Regions from separate parts of the Homo sapiens genome. Here region 2 is linked to region 1. Evidence: fine-mapped expression QTL. Tissue or cell type: skeletal muscle. Region 1 holds a variant in brackets; the other region holds the start of a gene. All regions are shown on one strand. Distances are between the middles of the regions.

Region 1 (2,681 bases):
CCCGCACTCTTAGTACTTTCCCGTAGCTCATGCTTTATCTCTCTTTTGCCTGGGAAAAGCTCTGACCATCTAGATTTTAAATGGCGATACAAGAGACTCAGGAGGCCAGGTTGTATCTTAGTTTTCAGTATGAGCTGGGGAGAGGATAACTCAGCATTAGCAGAGAGACCCAGTGCCTCAGTAGTCACCCCCAACAGAGGAAAGAGCTAAAAAGAAGACAAAATTCAGGCTGCAGTGCCAGAGTTCTTCAATAACACCATTAGCATTTGGTTTATAATGTTCTTTGGTACTTGGACCTGCATGGGCATTAGCGCTTGCTGCCACAGAAAACAAAGCTTTGCTCTCCATCTTTGTGAACCAAACAGCAGGGAATGCTGACTTTTTAGCTGACCAGTGATGCAAATGGAGGACATTAGCTCAATTAGCGTAATGGGCCATATAAGGCACAGGCTGGCAGTTCATAATGGTGGACAGGCTGTCTGTACTTTGCTGAGATAAAAATAAACCTGGTACCTTCAGCTTGTAACGCTGAGCCCCTGGCCAGGAGGATGGGTTCCTAAGGCTCCTGCCTGAAGCCCTGTAATGTTTGTCCCCACTAAAGCTCTTCTCATGCTATCCTGAAACTGACTGTTTATTTGCCTGTCTTTTCAGTCCCCCTGCCCCCATAGAAGAGATTGTCTCACTCATCATTGTCCCCAGTACCTCAATGAATCCTAGTGCCCAGGAGACACTCAGGAAGTACCCGCTTAGTGAACATGTTAGATGGCATTGTCTCTCCTCATTCTCACTGCACAACCTGTCCATCCTCCTACAACAGCTTGGGCACGGACAGGCCTTATGCAAACCTGCCAGCCAGCAGCCTCACACAAGCAAGGCCTGTAGCAAGGCTGGACTGACGATTCTCAGGCTTAAACTGGCGCTGTTTCAAGATGAGGCAAGTGCTGGATCTCGTTCCTTGTCCAATTCCCTCCTGATAAGGAACCTGGGGCCCAGTGTTAATGCCATGCTTCCCCAACTGGGTGGGCTATTCCGTGCACCGCAGATGGGAAAATTCCCTGAGAGAAACAGTAACATGATGTTTCCTTAAAAGCAGTCCTTTTTCCCCCATGTGTTATAGGTACAGCCACTTCTCATGGGGAAAAGACCTCCTGCAAGCCAGTCCTTCCTCATCAGCAGAGACATTTGTAGACAGTCTTGTTGTAGACTAGGAATTTCAGTTCTTTGCTCAGGTCCACAGTTAATTTTTAAAAAAGAATTTTTTGGCTGGGTGTGGTGGCTCACGCCTGTAATCTCAGCACTTTGGGAGGCCGAGGCGGGTGGATCACAAGGTCAAGAGATCGAGACCATCCTGGCCAACATGGTGAAACCCTGTGTCTACTAAAAATACAAAAAAAAATTAGCTGGGCGTGGTGGCGGGTGCCTGTAGTCCCAGCTACTCGGGAGGCTGAGGCAGGGGAATCGCTTGAACCCGGGAGG[C/T]GGAGGTTGCGGTGAGCCGAGATCGCGCCACTGCACTCCAGCCTGGCAACAGAGTGAGACTCTGTCTTAAAAAAAAAAAGAATTTTTTCAGATTGGCTTTTTGGAAGGTCAAACCATGTTAAGGAAAATAGCTCTCTTCTCTCTCCCATGACTTTAGTCAGAAATATGAGCAGAATTTATACAGTTTGGCGGCAGCACGGACTCTGTCTAAAAAGGTCAACATTTTCCTTTTATAAAATAGAAGCTCAGCCAGGTACGGTGGCTCATGCCTGTAATCCCAACATTTTGGGAAGCCAAGGTGGGTGGATCACTTGAGGTCAGGCGTTTAAGACCAATCTGGCCAATAAGGTGAAATCCCGTTTCTACAAAAAAATACAAAAAAAATTAGCTGGGCGTGGTGGTGTGTGCCTGTAGTCCCAGTTACTCGGGAGGCTGAGGAAGGAGAATCACTTCAACCCAGGAGGCGGAGGCTGCAGTGAACCGAGATTGCACCACTGGCAACAGAGCAAGACTCTGTCTCAAAAATAAATAAATAAATAAATAAAACAGAAGTTGTCCTCCTGAGGGGATGGAAAGAGAGACTGAGGCAGTTAACTGGGCCTTCCTTCCTCTGGGCCACAGGCCTGGCCTCTGTTACATACCTGGAGCCCAACAGGCAAGGATAAAGCAGTTTGCTTAAGAAACTGCAGGAGAACAAGCTGGGACAACACACATTCGTTCTCCTTAGGGTGACGGAGGGAGTGGTTTCAGAGGCACAGTCTGGCAGAGCCTACGTGAGCATTTTCTTGCCAAGATCACTCCTGCTTGATCAATCTACTGAGCAAACAGCACTCTGCTTGCAGGGGACTTGTGCTGAGGCAGCTGCACCATGAACTACATACAGGTGAAAATGTCACGTGTGTTTTATCCCCCCCTCACCCCCAGGCATGGGATTTTTTTTCTCCTGAAAGCATGACTCACACCTGGCAATATTGTTTAACATTGATCTTTGGGGGAAAAAATGGGAAGCAAGAAAACAAAGTCAATAATGAACAATCCACCCAGTCTGTGTGATCTGAGGAGGCATCAAATCAGATAAAGAGAGTAAGAGATTCCACCTACTTCTTTTTCACACAGCAAATGATGAGCCCGAGGGCAGACAGCAGTAAGACTCCACCTCCCACCGCTGCGATGAGGATGACAGTCAAGTCTGTGAGCAGAGACAT
Region 2 (2,681 bases), 59 kb after region 1:
ATCCAGGGCCCACAGGGCATTTCCTGGCTGGCACAGGTCACTGGGACGTGTTGGTCCCTTCCCCCAACCGAAACAACTCGAAATTCACACATATCCCCGGAACAACAGCCTCCTGCCCTCAAAGTCCACTGCCAAAAAGTGCGAGGGGCGCGGGAATGTCCAGTCTCTGCGGTGGCGCAGATGCCTGGCGGCTTTCTCTGGGACCCCCTAAAAGAAATCCGGGCGCTTTCATTTTTGCACCAACGCTCTTCAACTTTAGGAGAGGGGGAATGCAGCGTGCGGACGGGAAAAAGGGGATCTAGTGGGAAATGCGGACGTGAAAGCACTTTTTTTGCACCTTCTCTCTGGACCAGGCGAGGAGGTAGAGGGCGAGCCTGGAGAGGAAAGATCTCTTCCCACACCCTGCCTGGGTGCTTTCAAGAATCCCGGCAAAGACCCTGGGGCGCACGGCGCGCCACCTTGGACATGTCGCCTGGGATCGGCTACCGGGAGCTCCTTTTCCCGCCTTCTCGGCCAGCACCGGGCTCATCCTCCCGGACCGGGAGGCTCCCCGATCGGGGACACTCTCACGTGCCGAGGGCAAGGTTGACTCCAGGAGGGCAAGGCCCACGCGCCCGACGCGGCGCGCGCAGGAACCGAACAGTCCGGGGGTCCCGGAGCCACCCGCGCATTTTGACTACGCCGTCCCCGCCCTCTCTCCGCACCCTCCGCACCCTCCGCACCCTGCGTCCCTCGGCCGCATCTCCGCCGGGCGTCCGCTGGCTGGCTAGCTCACCACTCCACGCCATCCGCCTCCAAAGCCCGGCACTCACCTGCCCCGCGCGGCAGGCGCGCCGCACCCAGCAGCAGAACCCCTAGCAGTGCGATAGAGACCCCGCAGTTCAGGCCGGCCATGACTCCGGGACGCCTCGGCCTCGGTGGGGAAAACGACGGTGGGGAGCGGCGGCCCCAGGCGCCCAAGCCCGGCGCAGCTGCGCTCCGCCCTGGCTCACTCACCTGCGCGCGGGCGGACCGGCCCGAGCCCCGCCCTGCGCAGCAGGATCGCGAGCTGACCCGGTGCGTCCCTCCTCTCTCTCCTCCTCCTCTTCCTGCCTCAGCGACCGCCTCTCCCTCCCAGGGTGCAGGGCTCCCGGCACCGGGTTGCTGGGTCCCTACTACTCCCCATTGCGGCGTTGGAGCGGACTTGTCCCCACCTTTCCGGGCTTAGTCTTCCTTCCCAAGTCTGAGAATGATGAGGTCTTTTTCTCCAGAGTCGCGAAGGTCGCCCATAGAGGAAGCCAGTCTACCTTCCCTTTTCTGTCGAGGAGACAAAGGCCATTATGCGCCTCGTTTTGGAGAAGAATCCTATTTGTGGGCCACCCAAGCCCTGGATCCTCTGCTACTTGACTTGGGCCAGAGGTCTGTTGGACTTTAAAGCCGGTGGTGGTACAGCTAGTATTTGCAGGACGGTGAGCCTGCAGCCTACTCCACACACATCACCTGCAGTATTTCCAGACACGCAACGTGTCCAAGGTCCCCAGGGTAGCTAGTAAATTAGAGGCAGATGCACCACTTCGTTGAATTGTGAGTAGAGTAGTATGCATCCCTTCACTGAGCTGTGGATGGAGTAGTATGTGCCCTTCTCGAGTTGTATTATAAATGGAGTAGTGTGTGCAGTGTGAGCGTGAAGCATTCAGGTCAAACGTTGGGCTGGAAAATGAATGAAAAATGAATGGCGCTGGACTCCTTTTCCAAATCCTCCCAGCCGCAGGTGTGCCACCTGCCTGTCTTCAGAGGCCCTGTGGGTTCTCCTTCCACCCTGCCGGCCATACACCAAGTCCAGGCCACAGGCAGAGATTGCGGATGGTTCAGGAGTTCTTAGCTAGCAGACCTGGGTTCTGCCAGAATGACTCCCTGGGACTACTTGTGTTCATGGATAGCCAGAAGCTGGGCCAGAGTCACCCGGAGCAACCTGGGAGGCTTGGGACAGGAACCAAAGCATGTGCGACAGCATCAGTTTACAGTCCAGTCCCAACTTCTGCTTAATTCTTGCGGGCACTGAGCCTCTCCAGGCTGCCCCAATCCTCCTTGTGGACAGGGGTGGGAAATCATCTCCTAGGAGCGTCACCCCTTCCTTCTCGATGTCCTTAATCATGAGAATAGAGCTAGCTCTGCCCTCTGGGAGCCCACAGTCCATCGAGGGAGGCAGAACTTGGAACATGACCCTGCCCACACCCCCACCTCTGGGAGGGCCTGTATCGTGAGCTAAACGGGACCTTAGATGTAATCTTCTAGTCCACTTCTGTCCTTGTGCAGAAAAATGGGAAAACTGAGAACTAGAGGGAAGGGAGAGGATGAGAAACGAAGAGAGGCTCTTGGTTCTCCCCACTGAATCGAGGACAAATTCATCAAGAGAAAGAAATCTTGACAAAAATCTAAACAATCTTTAAAAATATTTATGCTGACCAGGAGGGTGAAAGGAGATTTGTCTTTTCTCCTGATTCTAAGCAGGCATATATATCCCAGCATCTTTTCCTAACATCCATGACACCATTGTTTCCCACATACAGTAATACCCACAACAGTACTAGAATGGCAGTGTATTGAATGCAAAATATCAGAAATATTGCTTGACAAGTTAAGCCTAAGGAACAAGTTATTTCCTTACTATTTCGTCTCTCCAAAGTTTGCTTAACTGTCTT

The links. PIP is the estimated chance that this variant, and not a neighbour inherited with it, causes the effect.
Region 2: CDCP1 starts here. The variant in region 1 is fine-mapped to the expression of CDCP1 in skeletal muscle (GTEx, PIP 0.96).

The regions. Positions count from the first base shown.
Region 1 is chr3:45,086,477-45,089,157 of GRCh38, forward strand. CDCP1 (CUB domain containing protein 1) reads right to left here. Exons shown (of 9, transcript NM_022842.5): 8 at 2,578-2,665. Among named protein-coding and RNA genes, the nearest start is that of CDCP1, 59 kb to the right of the region's middle. The variant C/T (reference allele first, on the strand shown) is at 1,477.
Region 2 is chr3:45,145,394-45,148,074 of GRCh38, forward strand. It overlaps CDCP1 (CUB domain containing protein 1), which reads right to left and starts at 985. Exons shown (of 9, transcript NM_022842.5): 1 at 813-985. The coding sequence starts at 894.